Regions from separate parts of the Homo sapiens genome. Here region 1 is linked to region 2. A link means that fine-mapping ties the variant in region 2 to the expression of a gene that starts in the linked region. Tissue or cell type: whole blood. Region 2 holds a variant in brackets; the other region holds the start of a gene. All regions are shown on one strand. Distances are between the middles of the regions.

Evidence for each region. PIP is the estimated chance that this variant, and not a neighbour inherited with it, causes the effect.
Region 1: it holds the start of KLHL8, and the variant in region 2 is fine-mapped to the expression of KLHL8 in whole blood (TOPMed, PIP above 0.99).

The regions. Positions count from the first base shown.
Region 1 is chr4:87,217,388-87,225,572 of GRCh38, forward strand. It overlaps KLHL8 (kelch like family member 8), which reads right to left and starts at 3,231. Exons shown (of 10, transcript NM_020803.5): 1 at 3,031-3,231. RefSeq lists an enhancer at 2,233-2,845 and silencers at 2,351-2,620, 2,961-3,450.
Region 2 is chr4:87,292,701-87,300,885 of GRCh38, forward strand. It overlaps MIR5705 (microRNA 5705), which reads right to left and starts at 7,883; the gene lies at 7,795-7,883. The variant T/C (reference allele first, on the strand shown) is at 3,169.

The DNA of each region.
Region 1 (8,185 bases), 75 kb before region 2:
CAGTGATGCAATCATGGCTCACTGCAGCCTTGACCTCCCTGGACTCAGGTGATCCTCCCACCTCAGTCTCCCGAGTAGCTGGGACCACAGGTGCACACCACCACATCTGGGTAATTTTTGTTCGTTTGTTTGTTTTTTTGTAGACACAGGGTTTCGCCGTGTTGTTCAGGCTGGTCTGGAACTCCTGGGATCAAGCAATTGGCCTGCTTTGGCTTCTGAAAGTGCTAGGATTACAAGCATGAGCCACCGAGCCTGGCCTCTTTTTTTTTTTTTTTTTTGGAATATAGAGAAAGGTCTCACTTTGTTGCCCAGGATGGTCTCAAACTCCTGGGCTCAAGCAATCCTCCTGCCTTGACCTCCCAAATTGCAGTTACAGGTGTGAGCTACCATGTGGGGCCCTTTAGTTCTTAATATACAAAAATAAATGTGACTCTTGGGAATTCCAATATAAGTAACCAAAAATTTAAACATTCAATTTATAAAACACAAAAACTATCTGAAATTAATGTTTAAGATGTCTGCAATAGTCTCTTTAATCTTTTTAAAATGACAATATCCATTTCAGTTCTCTACAACTCTCAAAAGTTCTTGATAAAAACAAAAGGGTTATTTGTCCAAACCCACAGAATGTTTAACACCAAGAATGAATCCTAACTGTGGATGTGATAACATGTCAATGTAGGTTCATCAATTGTAATATACGTACCACTCTGATGAGAGATTTTGGCTCTGTAGGGGTAGGCGATACATGGGAAATCTCTATACCTTCCACTCAGTTTTGTTGTGAACTTACAACTGCTCTAAAAAAGAAAATTCATTTTTCAAAATAGCAGGTGGGATCAAAATTTACCCAACTTTTTTTTTTTTTTTAGATGGAGTCTCGTTCTATTGCCAGGCTGGAGTGCAGCTGCGTGATCTCAGCTCACTTCCACCTCCCAGGTTCAAGTGATTCTCGTGTCTCTGGGACTACAGGCATGCGCCACCATGCCCAGCTAATTTTTTTGTATTTTTAGTAGAGATGGGGTTTCACCATGTTGGCCAGGATGGTCTTGATCTCCTGACCTCTTGATCCGCCCGCCTCGGCCTCCCAAAGTGTTGGGATTACAGGCGTGAGCCACCGCGCCCGGCCCTAACTTTCTTCTTAATGAATGAAGAAATACTGTTTTTAAAAAATAACCCTCACTGAATGTGAACTGAGTTTCTTGTCAAAAAATGTGCAATTATTACAGAATATATCATCTTAACCAATTATCAGTAATCTTATCAAATGCTAAAAGAATTGGCAGCTTTAAAAATTAAAATGATGAAGCTAAGTGCTCATATGTAGTTGAATAGAGTATCCTTAGACTTTTTTTTTCTTTTTTTGAGATGGAGTCTCACTCTGTCGCCCAGGCTGGAGCGCAGTGGCATGATCTCGGTTCACTGCAACCTCCGCCTCCCGGGTTCAAGCCATTCTCCTGTCTTAGCCTCTCGAGTAGCTGAGACTACAGGCATGTGCCACCACGCTCAGCTAATTTTTGTTATTTTTAGTAGAGATGGGGTTTCACCATGTTGGCCAGACTGGTCTCGAAAATCCTGACCTCAAGTGATCCCCCCGCCTCAATCTCCCAAAGTGCTGGGATTACAGGCGTGAGCCACTGCACCCGGCCCCTGAGACACCTCTTTTTATATTTAGGCTTACGCAATTTTGGTATCTTGAAAGCAATTTTTTTAAAAAGTGACGAAATAAATAAAGTGACTAAAAGTTTGAAGTTTGAACTGGGTCAGTTTGACAAATTAAGAAGGGTGCCAGGAGGAAGTCTGAGGAAAAGCAGCAGCTTAATGCCACCGCCATCTCCAAGCAGCGTTCCAGGCGCCAGCACTGTTAGCAGCAGTCCTCTGCGTACCCAAGAGTACCGCAGGGCCAGAACACGAGAAAGATGCGCGAAGAGGATTTCCTTCTAGAGAGAGAATAAAGAACACCAAGAGTCCAACAATTACCATCTTGTATAGGAGAAAAACAATGCAAAGGAAAAAACGTGCAACCAGCAGATAAAATACTTATGTCAACCCAGGTTCTAAGGACCTTTTCCCAAAGTATCCCTCTAAACTGGTAACATTAGCTTAGGGCAGAGTCAAGAAGAAAGTTATGCCATTAACACAGATGAAAATACTGAACGTTTTCTATGAAAAGTCACCCGATTAAACACTGCCAAGAGGGAAAAACAGTGCAAGTCCAGTAAAGCACGAGACACGTAGAAAATTCAAGCTATGTAGCCAAATCGCTCTCTCTGAAGAAAACAGCAAGCCAACTGAACCCAGCACGGAGTGGAAGGCGTAAAGAGCTGTCATCGTGGCGGTAACAACTCCACCGGGCGGCTGAGCGTCTAGAAAGAGGCTGCGGTTCCTGGTTCCACATCAGGAGGCACTCTCCACAAGGTCTACACCGCCGCTCCCGGGAAGGCACCTCCAGGGCGGCCAGCAAGCCCCCCGAGTGGGGACAGGCAGTGCCTTCCTCGCCTCGTCCCCGCGCGGCGTGGCCCGGAGGTGGCCCACTCGCCCCGCCCCCGCAGGCCGCGGCTCCAGGGGGCGTCCGGCCGCCCTCCCGGGGCCCCGAACCCGCGCCAGCCGCACCGCGCCTGCCCTCTTCCTGGACCCCGCGAAGCACCTGCCTGGGCCCCTCTTCGAAAGACTGGGAGGAAGGAGTCAAGGAGCTGCCGGGGAGGCTGACAGAGCCAGAGGCTGGAGCTCCCCTACGGGAGCCGGGAGCATAACCCTGCTCCTCCCGCCAATGGGGGCGACAAAAGCCGTGGAAGGTTGCTCAGGGGCTGGATCTCCTGCTGTCCGGGCCCCAAGCCCTCTCAGCTGTGGAGTTTCGGTTGGTGCACGAGGGCTCGAATTTCCTCCGCACACCGGAGACCCAAGACGGGACGGTGTTGCGACTTGGGGGCTGGGGTGAGGGAGGGCTCGGCGCGAGCGGACGGCACCGCACAAAGGAAGAGGGGACTGAGGGGAGACGAGGGGACTGAGGGGAGACGAGCGTCCCGTTACCTCGATCCTCGACCCTGTTCTTCCTGATGTCGCTAAGGTTGCAGCCACGTTACCACGCTCCCAGAGCCCCGGCCGCCCTCAGCGGAACCTCACCAACCCCGCGCGAGCACCCGGCGGACGCGCGCTCTCCTGCGCGGCCCCGCGGAGCCCCGGCGGGCGCTTGGCGTCCTCTCGCCTCAGCCCCCGCGAGCCGCGGCCTCTGGGGGCGGGGCGGGCTGGGCGGGGCTGCGCACGGCACTCTGGGAAGTGTGGTTCTCGGGACCTCCTCCCCGAGGCCACCCCCACGGCCTCGCCCCCGCGGCTCCCTAGTGGGCGGCCGGGTCTCAGGGACTGGGCAGTGTTGCCCGGCCTGGTGAAGGCGGACCAGGGCGTGGCGGAGGTCCCCATAACAAATCTTGAAATAAAACACTGCCTAAATACCTTTGAGCTTATCCATGCTTCACTTCTGCGGCGGTACAAAATTTAGTTTCTTTGTATGTCCATCAAATCCCCTTCTGCGGTTGTGAGTGTTCCTGGGATTTATGTCTTTGAAAAAAGAAGGGGAAAAAAAGGTTTGCATTTATTCCTGTGTCACTTTCACCACGTGCTCTACAAAGGATATACAAAACAACTGTGTTTATAAATACACACCCACAGTTTGTAAACCTAAGGAAGCAGTTGATTGACCTGAGAGCTCGCTGCTAAAAAGCAGTGCAAGTGGCCATGCGCGGTGGCTCACGCCTGTAATCCCAGCACTTTGGGAGGCTGAGGCGGGCGCATCACGAGGTCAGGAGTCGAGACCATCCTGGCCAACATGGTGAAACTCCGTCTGTACTAAAAATACAAAAATTAGCTGGGCGTGGTTGTGCGTGCCACCAATCCCAGCTATTCGCAAGGCTGAGGCAGGAGAATTGCTTGAACCCGGGAGTCGGAGGTTGCAGTGAGCTGAGATTGTGCCATTGCACTCCAGCCTGGCGACAGAGCAAGACTCCGTCTAAAAAAAAAAAAAAAAAAAAAAAAAGCAATGCAAGTAAAAGTGCTGTTGAAATGAATTAATTTTTCTATAATGTCAATAAAGTGGAATGTGTGAGGCGGGAGATCAAGAGACAGCAAAAAAACAAAATTTTTTTTAAAGAAAGATATTCCCCTAAATGTGTCTTTTGCCAGACTAACCTCAAACTTTCACAATCCTAGGAGTCTATTTCAGAATAAATTTAATCCTAGGACCTTTATTAATATTAACACATATGAACATTAGCACATTGATTTTAATAGAAATGAACATATATATATCTGTATATATATATGCATCTTCTATAAAAACCCCAAAGCAACTATTTGAATTTGAAATTTTATTTCTAGAAAAAAAATCACATTTTTTACATTGAAATATAAATAATTCTTAATATTTCAAAATATTCCTCTTTAGAGCATTAGTATTTTGCACATTTAATGCAAATACCTTTAGAAAAATAGAGTAAGATGAGTTTTAAAGAAGTATGCAGTGAAGAAAAGTCATAAAATGTGTCTGGAACGTGATGTAAAAATTGTTGGGACTCAGAAATCGATACCCCAAAATATGGTGCTTTGCCGCGCTGAACTGAGGAAGCAGCTTCAAGGTGTCTCTTACCTTCCCCATTACCCCTCCTGCCTCTCAATTCTTTGTCTCTCCCAAAGCACCAAATGATGTCGTTCTCTGAATTTCCCTTATCTGCCTAGAAACTAGACCTGCCAAAGAGGAACATATTTGCCTTACCTGATTTTTCATTTACTTAACTCATATTGGAGGAAGAAAGACTGAAGTCTGTCAACACTCTTGGACAGACTTTTGTCACAAACTATTGTCTGCTGTATGGGCTCAACACACTTTTTCCCAGGCCATTGTATGTTCCCCATTTTCCCCTAAAAGTCCTTTACTATACCTTAAGTTGCCACATTTCCCCAATCTCCCTTTCCCCCATAAAGAAGAGTATATAAACGTCTCTACCCCATTGAGTCATTGGGTAATCATTCTCCTGAAATCTCCCTGTGTTATGCACATTAAAATAAATTTTGTATGTCTTTTTTCCTATTAGTCTGCCATTTGACAGTTGATTTTTCAGTGAACCTTCCAAGGGAAAAGGGAAAGCTTCCCTGTATTCCCTTTATTAAACATAAAACACAATATGTATTTTATTTATTTATTTATTTTATTTTATTTTTTTGAGACGGAGTTTTGCTCTTGTCGCCCAGGCTGGAGTGCAGTGGCACAATCTCAGCTCACTGCAACCTCCACCTCCCAGGTTCAAGTGATTCTCCTGCCTCAGCCTCTGCAATAGTTGGGATTACAGGTGTCTGCCACCACGCCCGGCTAATTTTTGCATTTTTAGTAGAGACAGGGTTTTACCATGTTGGCCAGGCTGGTCTCGAACACCTGACCTCAAGTGATCCACTCGCCTCAGCCTCCCAAAGTGCTGGGATTACAGGCATGAGCCACCACGCCCGGCCTACAATATGTATTTAGTAAGACCATGTTAATAGAAATTTTGTTTTTTATAGCCTAAGCTTTTATTTTATTTTATTTATTTTATTTTAGAGACAGAGTCTCACTCTGTTGCCTAGGCTAGAGTGCAGTGAGTAGCACAATCATGGCTCACTGTAATCTTGATTTCCCCGGCTCAGGTGATTCTCCCACCTCCCGAGTAGCTGGAATTACAGGCCCACACCACCACACCTGGCTAATTTTTTTGTTTGTTTTGTTTTGTTTTGTTTTGTTTTGTAGAGATGGGGTTTCTCCATGTTGCCCAGGCTGGTTGTCAAACTCCTGGTCACAAGGGATCTGCCTTTCTTGGCCTCCCAAAGTGCTGGGATTACAGGTGTAAGCCACCATTCCTGGCCACTTTTCTTGTAATAAGGTGCACAGTAACTCCTAAAAATGCTTATAAAAAAGAGCACAACTGCTCTTTTTCTTCTGCTAATTGACATATACACAATAAACTATTTGTAGTTACTAACAAATCAAAGAAATATACACAATATTTCAATATTATTATCATCTATTTATCGAAGAACATTTTTTGAGCACCAGACACTGAGCTAGGAACTGGGAAATACGCAGTAGACAAAATTGAATAGTCCCTGCTCTCATGGAGACTTAGGATCTAGACTCGGAGACAGAGAATTAAACAGTGAATAATGAAAAGGTATGCATGGGGTGGCCAGGGGTTTGGGGAGCACCTAAGATACACCTAATCTAGAGCCTTTTATTGGGGCAGAGGAGTCTGGCAAAAATTCTGAAAATTAAATGAAATTTTTAAACCAAATAGCTATAAACTGGGGCAAAAAAAATCTTTCCCTAAAAAGTGATATATCTGTAACAATGCTCTCAAATAATTACTTAAAAATATATACAGTATCTTACAAAATAAGACATACCTCAACTAAAACAAAACACACATTTCCTAAATCGGACGAAATGTCTTCTTAGTTTTTACCCATTCCTCCCTAGCTCCATTTGAGAATAAGCAAGACTAGCCTATAATAAGTAAGGATCTAAGAAATTCCTTCCCTTCCCTCAAAGTCCGATAAATTAAAACTGGAAAGGATCTGATAGCTGTTTGTTCATTTTATGATTGTACTTTAGTCAGAAAAAAATTGCAATATTTTAACCCCAATCAACATTTGCATTTTTTTTTTTTAAATTTGAGATGGAGTCTCGCCTTGTTACCCAGGCTGGAGTGCAATGGCACGATCTTGGCTTACTGCAACCTCCGTCTCCCAGGTTCAAGTGATTCTCCTGCCTCAGCCTCCTGAGTAGCTGGGTTTCGGCCTCCCAAAGTGCTGGGATTACAAGCATGAGCCACCGCGCCGGCCAACATTTGCATTTTAAGTCTTTATCTTTAATCCTGGGATAAAAGGCTTTATAACCATCAAAAGAATTTCAGATGTGGGCTGGATATGGTGGCTCATTCCCTGGATGACAGAGCCAGACAATTTTTCTTTCTCTTAAAGGAGTCGGGGAGCAGGGAAAGAATTTCAGATGTGGCTTGCCGAGGGATTTGGAAAGATTAATGAAGAAGGTTATTTTATCTTCATTTGCTAGGGAGGCAAAGCTTGCAACCAGAGAGCAGGTCCCAGAAGAGTTGCTAAGGTTCTTTGTCTATGGAAACGTACTTAAAGAGCCTGAACACCGCCAGCAAGACCACTATCTTCCTGTCCAGGTCAGGGTTACTGGCTTGCAGTTACATTTCATCCCAATCCTTTGACTCCTATCCTGTCACCCTCCTACAAAACCAGCCTTTACTGTGGCACTTCAGCTTCCCTCAACAATCATTTCCCGCCTTTTATCCTAAGACACACATGTGGATGGCTATGTTTTCTGACCTTAGGCTGGTGGCTCAACTTGTGCTGTTTTAATAAATTAATGACAGTTCTTCCATCCACTACCATGCAATCAGCCTGACATAGGTATCTCTAAACCTTTGCTGACCATTTTCTGATATATTTCTCTGATATATATTGTTGTTTTGTTTTTGTTTTTATTTTGTTAAAGAGATGGATGGGGTGGAGTTTGGTGGGGTGCGGGGATGGGGGGATTTTGCTATGTTGCCACGGCTGGTCTTGAACTCCTGGCCTCGAGGGATCCTCCTGCCTTAGCTTCCCGCCTTAGCCTTCGGAGTGGCTGGGATTACAAGGCTCAAGTCACAGCACCCAGCATCCCTGAAATATTTAAAGTTCCCAATTTTTCTGTGGGTCTTTGTAATTGCTGTTCCTTCTACCCCTTTGCCTGGTGAACTCTTTCTAATCATCTAGTATTAACTTAGAAAACTTTTTAATTAGGAAACCTTTCTTGGTTACAGTCCCCCCTCTCCAGTTTTGGGTTACTGCCTCCTATATATGCTCATCTTACAACTTATTTTTGCCCCTAAAGTAGCACTTAGTGAGCATTTTAAGAAGTTGTCTATATCTTTCATTTGTCTGAAATCTCCTTAAATAGAAAATAACAGCATAGTACTTGATGTATAGATGCTTAATAAATACTTGGACTATAAATGGATGCATATCAACTTTGCTCAGTAAACAACCATTCGGTAACTACTTCCTGCCAAGGGCCAGGCAGTAAATATTTTAGGGTTTGGGGCCATAAGGTCTCTGTTGCTTCCTAAAGGACAATAGTCAAGTCTCACTGGTGGCTCCA
Region 2 (8,185 bases):
GAATACAGTGATATCAATGATCCTGACCCTGTGTAGGCCTAGGCTGATATGTGTGCTTGTGTCTTTGTGGTTAACAAAAGTTTAAAAAGTAAAAAATAAAATAAAAAAGAAAAAGCTTATAGAATAAGAAAATAAAGAAAGAACATATTTTTGTATAGCTGTACAACGGGTTTGTTTTAAGCTAAAAGTTATTACAAAAGAGTTAAAAAGTTAAAAAAATTATAAAGTTTCTGAAGTAAAAAAGTTACATTACCAGTAAACTGAGTTCTTCTCCTATTTTATATCAACCAAAATAACACCCAGTTGGAAAAGAGGCAAGCAGGTTTTATTCCTGGCCAGGAATGGAGGAGGGGCTCTCACTCTCAATGCCGCTTTTTCCCGATCAGTAGAGGCATGGGTTTTTTAAGGACTAAGTAGGCACGCAGCCTCCAGACACGCAGGCTCATTTCGTGCATATGTCTTCATACAATCCATGTCACAAAATGGTGGACATTTTCTTTTACAGAAGGGAATTTTAGCGTTACAGTGATATGTTAATGACCTAAAGGCAACTAGGGGGGTCATCTGTTCCAGTTTGTGCCAGTTTGGGGGATTCTGATCTTCCTTTGGTATCTGGTCAGGGGTCAAGAAACTCTGGCACCACCCCAGGCCATCTTATTTCTTTAAGCAGTTGTGTCTATAAATAGACTAAAGAAAAACAATAAGAAAAAGGAACTTTCCCAGTTAATTCATCAGGACTGAACTGGTAACAGTTAGAGTAAGCTGAGGTTAATTTATTTCTGAAGAAAGAAAAATTAGTTTTATAATTTAGTGTAGCCTACATGTACAGTGTTTATAAAGTCTACAGTAGTGTACAGTAATGCCCTAGGTATTGGGGGAACGCACCCCCAATATTTCAACATAGGTTCTTCCTATTTTCCATAAGTGTCAGCCAGCTGAGAAATAAAGAGAGATAGTACAAAGAGAGGAATTTTACAGCTGGGCCGCTGGGGGTGACATCACATATTGGTAGGGCCATGATGCCCGCCTGAGTCTTAGACCAGGAAGTTTTTATTAAGGGTTTCAAAAGGGGAGGGGGTGTAAGAACAGGGAGTAGGTACAAAGAACACATGATTCAAAAGGCAAAAAGCAGAACTACTAGTAAGAGTCCAACAAAGATCACAAGGCAAAAGGCAAAAGCAGAACTACCGATAAGGGTCTATATTCAGTGGTGCACATATTGTCTTGATAAACATCTTAAACAACAGAAAACAGGGTTCAAGAGCAGAGAACTGGTCTGACCACAAATTTACCAGGGTGGAGTTTTTCCCCACCCTAGTAAGCCTGAGGATACTGCAGGAGACCAGGGTGTATCTTAATCCTTATCTCAACCACATAGGACAGACATTCCCAGAGCGGCCGTTTATAGACCTCCCCCAAGGAAGGCATTCCTTTCCCAGGGTATTAATATTAATATTCCTTGCTAGGAAAAGAATTTAGCGACATCTCTCCTACTTGCATGTCCGTTTATAGGCTCTCTGCAAGAAGAAAAATATGGCTCTTTTTTCCCGACCTTATGGTTGTCTTCCCTTGTTCTATAAAAATCGCTGTTATTCTGTTCTTTTTCAAGGTACACTGATTTCATATTGTTCAGACACACATGTTTTATAATCAATTTGTACAGTTAACACAATTATCACAGTGGTCCTGAGGTGACATACATCCTCAGCTTATGAAGATAACAGGATTAAGACATGAAAGTAAAGACAGGCATAAGAAATTATATAAGTATTATTTGGGAACTGATATATGTCCATATTAAAATGAAATCTTCACAATTTATGTTCCTCTCTCATGGCTCCAGCCGGTCCTTCCATTCAGGGTCCCTGACTTCCCACAACATCTCTCCCTTTCTTTTTATATAAATGTGCCATGGCGATGAAGGCTTGTTCATTCTCTTAGTTTTGATGCAGGATTCTTTGACTGGTCTGGCACACTAAAAACAAGCCACTTAAACAGAGAAACATAATTCCAATGTTACTACAGTGGAGCCCCTAATAGACTTAATCCAAGTTGTGGGGTTTAGTCCATAAAGACTTTCTGCCACCTGATCTAACGTCTCAGCTCCAGGCACAATGGATAAATGAGCTTGAGAGGCTTCAAATATTTGTTTCTTTAATTTAGTTATGTCCAAGGATAAATTATCTTCCCTACCCAGAAGGTGTCCTTTGACCATTTCCCGTGAATGATCAATCTCGTAGGAATATGGTGTGATACAGAAATCAGAAGTATTCCAATCGCACTGCATTTGCATGCGATGTTTGAGACTCATTAGCCGATCTCCAAGCCAAATAACAGACTGTCTTAAATCATTAATTTGATTAGCTAATTTTTGACCAATGCCCTGTTGAGCATTCCACATTTGGGTGGAATTGGCTTGCCGATCATTAACAAAATGAGCCGTTTGAATAGATCGGTGTAATGCCACTCCGGCAGTGGTGGCCAGTGCAGTGACTAATTAGGCCCATGATCACAGCGATTAAAGTGAAAACAAATCTCTTAGATCTTTTGAGAATTCGTTGTTAACACTTCATTAATTAAATATACTGAGGGGGAAGATTCCCAAGGTCTGGGTAAAGTTACTGGTATCCAGATTCTTTCTTGAGCTCAAAGCAACATTACACTTTTCCTGGAGTCAAAATGGGGGTTAACACAAGTGTATAAATGACAATGCATTGGACAGTTTGATTGTTTGTCCAAATTTTGATATTTCCCACTAACAGCATGTAAGAAGGCTTAACACAATTCTATATAGGAATAGTCAGGCTGGAGGTAAACAAAGCAGAATGTCTGAATCTACATTGATACTGAGGGAGAGGAGCGGCAGTGGCAACGCCCGATGTTCTCTGCTGTAAAGAAGCAATCCAAGGTGCCCGGGGATGCCAAAGAGGTAGAGGGGCATAACTGGGCTGAGAAGAATTATCATAATGCCAACTGGAGTCCCATAAAGGGGGATCAGCATCAAAACGAGGAAGAGGGTTCAAAGGGGATTTATCATGGGGTTCAGAATCACGGATGCGAGGGGCGGTAGTGGGGACAACAGACAGAAAAGTTTCCCCTTCCCAGAGTGCATTTCTCTGACTTCTCCTGGGACAAACCTGAGAAAAATTTTCTGCTTTCAAAAACTCA[T/C]GTGATTTGGTTTGGCTCACCACGATAATCTCCCTTTTTAAAAGTCAACTGTGTCATATAACATACCCTCATCCCAGGGCAAAATCCATGCTATTCACAGTCATTGGGATTATGCAGGGCATGTACACCAGGAAAAAGTAGTCTTGGTGCCATCTTAGAATTCTGCTGGCCACACATTGTTTCACTACAACCGTTATCAGAGGGACAGCAATATCCAAGGAGCAGGAGAAGCAAGAGAGCTCTAAAAAAGAGACCGAGAAAATCAGCCAAAGAAGTCAGAGAAAAACTGGGAGGAACTGAAAAATACAACCTCCTCACATGAGAGGCCTTCTAGCTGATGATTAAGACCATGGATACTGTAGCTGAACTGACAACTCCACCATTTATTCCTTGGCTGTGTGGCCTTGGATGACAAGGTATTGACACTTTACAGTTGCTTATCTTTAAATTGTAGCCAGTTGAAATCCCTACCTCACAGGATTTTTTGTGATGATTAAATGAGTAAATGGATGTAAGGTTTGTAGGAAAGTGTATCAGAGAATAATAAGCCCTCTATATGTGTTTGCCAATGTTTGAAAGGATTAAATCCCTTTTATATCATATTGATTAATGGAGCATATAATTTCTATTCTCATTGGACCTTTAAAGATTCTTTTTATATCACCAGTTTCCGCCTAGCATCGCTCTGGAGATGTACAAGGGGCTTAGTAAAGGTTGATAGAAACAAACCAATTATGTAATCATAAATAATGCAATAGATGAATATAATACAATTATATGTAGCCATTAAGATTAAGAATAACTTAGGTGGTATGGTTCTTTTTAAAAATTTAAACATTGGCAGGGCCTGGTGGCTCAGGCCTGTAATCCCAGCACTTTGGACGGTCAATGGGAGGACGGCTTGAGCCCAGGAGTTAGAGACCAGCCTGGGCAACATGACAAGATCTCATCTCTACAAAAAAAATACAAAAAATTAGCTGGTCTTGGTGGTGTGCACCTGTGGTCCCAGCTACTCAAGAGGCTGAGGTGCAAGGACTGCTTGAGCCTAGGAGGTCGAGGTTGCTGTGAGCTGTGATGTAGCCACTGCACTCCAGCCTGGCAAAAGAGCAAGGCCCTATCTAAAATAAATAAATAAATAAATAAAATTTAAACGTTTAAAAATTATGGGCCAGGCATGGTGACTATGCCTGCAATCCCAGCACTTTGGGAGGCCAAGATGGGCAGATCCCCTGATGTCAGGAGTTTGAGACCTTGAGACCAGCCTGGCCAACATGGTGAAACCCTGTCTCTACTAAAAATACAAAAAAAATTAGCCAGGCATGGTGGCAGGCACCTGTAATCCCAGGTACTCGGGAGGCTGAGGCAAGAGAATCATTGAATCCCTGAGATAGAAGTTGCAGTGAGCCAAGATCGTGCCACTGAAATCCAGCTTGGGTGACAGAAAAGGATTGCGTCTTGAAAAAAAAAATTATGGTGAAATATACATAATATAAAGTTTACCATTTTAACTATTTTTAAGTGTAAAGTTCAGTAGTATCAACTACATTCATATTTTGCAGCCATCACCACCATCCATCTCTACAACTTTTTCAACTTCCTAAACTGACACTCTGTACCCATTAAATAATAACTCCCCATTCTCCATTCCCCTCAGCCCCTGAAACTACCATTCTACTTTCTGTCTCTGTGTATTTGATCACTCTAGATACCTCGTATGAGTGGGATCATACACTATTTATACTTTGTACTTTTGTGACTAGCTCATTTCACTTAGCATAAAGTCCTCAAGGTTCATCCATGTTGTAGCATGGTGTCAGAATTTTCCTCTTGTTTAAAGCTGGATAGTATTCTACTGTATGTATATGCCACATTTTGTTTATCCATTCATCCATTGATGGATATTTGGGTTACTTCCACTTTTTGGCTACTGTGAATAATGCTGCTATGAATGTGGGTGTACCAATATCTATTTGAGTTTTCTTTTCAATTCCTTTGGGTATATACCCGGAAGTGAAATTGCTGGATCATATGGTAATTCTGTTTACATGCAATGGTTATTTTAATATTGTATCTTGCCCCCCTTATATTTAGTTCAAAATCTGAGAACTCATCACTATGCTGTACTCTCTTATTGCCTCAAGACTTGTGCACTTTATAATTTTAGATACTCTTGTAAGCACTGGAAATCCTTTCTGAAATAAAGGTGGGTAGAAAGTAATCAATAAATACCAGCTATAATATGTTAACTTCACTTTTTCCATGGTCAATAATAGATAATCTATACATAACTATTAAATACATGGCTCAGATAAATGTACTTATAGCAATTTGAAATTTTGCATGGTTTTATATTGTGACTGTATATATGCCTGTATTGTGAAATTTAATAGCATACATATATTTATCTTTATTTATAAATTGGTTATTTTATAACTTACTATTTTCTTCTGTGCTCTATCCTCCACTTCAGTGCTAGTTTTGTCTTTCTCAACCACAGATCTGATCTCGTTGGTTTTATGTACTCTACTCTTGCATGGCTTGCCTCAATAAAATCCAAATCTGTCAACATGTTTTTTGAAACTCTGTACTGTTGGGCCCCAAACATCTTTTCCAAGCTGTTATTCCCCCAGATTCCCAGGTGCATGATCCATGTTGACCCTGGATGACTTACCATGCTACAAACGCACAACTTGTAAAACATTTTGTACCAACATGCATGTTTGTTCCCTGTGGCATATTCTTGCACCTCCTCCTCTTTAATATCTTTAATTGCATCTCCTCAGCAAAGATTTGCCCTGTCACCCAAATTAATCATGCTGTCTATTCACAAAGCACTTGGTTAGTAACTTTTCAAAGGGACTAACCCTATTTTTCTTTGAGTGAGTTGTTATTTACAAACAGGCTGGATTAGCTGATCTGTTGTAAACATCTTTAAAGCAAGGATCACATCTTCCTCTCTGATTTTTCTACATTCTAGCATCATGTATTTCCTATCAAAGTTGCCGAGTGAATATCTTTTCTTGAATGAATTGTAGAAAAAGCCTTGTTTTGGCTTGAAAAAGTCTATGAGTTGTTGTAGTTTATCTTGAATATTTCTACATTAAATTCACCAGCATAGAAAATAATACTCTCAAATGTGCAATATTGTTAGATAACAAGGTACACTGGAACTGCAATATTGTTTGAAATATTTAAATCACATCATTCCAAATTGAATTCAACATCAAGTGGTCTTTTTTTTTTTCCTGCTACATAGGTAATACAGGATAGTTTTGATGACTGAAAAATAGGCTATGTTTCCAGACTAGATTAGAATGTGGGGAGAAGCTTAGAAAGAGAAGGCTGAAAAGAGAAAGAGAACAATGGAAGAGAAGTAGAGAACTAAATGCATCAAATTAATTGAACGAAGTCTGAACTAATTAGTAAAGAGCCATCAGAAGGAAAGAGGTGTTGAGAAACAGAAAGTCAAAAAATCCAGGGCTGGGTGCAGTGACTCACGCCCATAATCTCAGCACTTTGGGAGGCCGAGGCGGGCTGATCACTGGAGGCCAGGAGTTCGAGACCAGTCTGGCCAACATAGTGAAACCCTGTCTCTACTAAAAGTACAAAAATTAGCTGGATGTAGTGGTGCATGCCTATAAACCCAGGTACTCAGGAGGCTGAGGCTGGAGAATCCCTTGAACCCGGGAAATGGAGGCTGCAGTGAGCCAAGATCACACCACTGCACTCCAGCCTGGGTGACAAAGTGAGACTCTGTCTCAAAAAGAAAAAAAAAAAAGTGAAAAATCCTAGTTATTGGAATTAGGTATGGGAACAGGCAATTTGGTTTTCAGTGTTGTTTGGGAATATTTAAGTCTTAATTTATACAAGTTAGCCTCACATTTAAAAGTAAGAAGATCTCTATTGAGATAATGGATCATTACTGGAGTGCAATTGGTAAATGACTTCACTTTTCATAAGTGTTTTGATGTGAATTTATGAATATTCTCTAGCTGCTCACTGGGTTTGTGAAGTTAGTTTGAATGAGACATGATTGCACCCTAGGCAAGTCAGAATGTACTTGCTTTGATTTCACTGTGATTACTTTTACTATAAAAGATTCCCATTAAATACAAGTAAGTTCCCACTTAACTTTCCTGTAATTCCACCCTTGCTGCAAGCAGCTGACAGGCAAATTTGATCAGATGTAATACATCCAATCAGATAAAGAAGGGGTTTCAGCAAAACACTTGGCAGATTTGAAGAGCTGAATAGAAAAGGTCATGAGCTGTCTGAAAACTTTTAGACACAAGAGGAAGCAAATAGTAGAAAGCGTGAGAGCACTCTTAGGACAGGGATTGGCATTTCCCCCTTACGGTTTCTCACGTAATTTGTGAAGACATAAACACAAGGGTAACTGTTAAATTCGTTGTAATTATCACATGTACAGAACAGCCCAGTTCACATAATGCTGCACTAAATTCAAAGTTAGTGTTATAAAAAAAGATGCCTCTAAAACATATGAATTACCTAGGAGTTTTTAAAAAATGCAGATTCTGATTTTGTAAGTTTGAGATGGGTTGCAACAGTTTGTATTTCCAACATGCCTCTCATGCGGCAGCCATGCTGCAAGGGCATGTTTAAACTTCCCCATTTACACAGGCCATGAGCCCCGAAACACCCATCAGCAATCCTGGGATGGGTGTTTCGGGGCTCATGGCCTGTGTAAATGGGGAACTTTAATGTTAGATGTTCATTCCATCTTTGGAAACATTATTATATAGATCATATAAGATTTAGATTAGAAACTAACCAAGCATTTTCTCTTCAACCATACATTTACTCTGCTACTCCTTTAAGCTTTGCATACAGTTGAAGATTGGCTGTACCTATACCACCCTCAGATCTGAGCAAGTGAGGGCCTTACCCCAGTCCTGTGCCTCATAGAGCCTTATTCTTTGGAGTGCCCTCTATGAAATTTTCCAAGTCCTCTTCGGATGCCTGCTCTGTTTTTTCTCTCTGGGGTACTCTCCCTTTC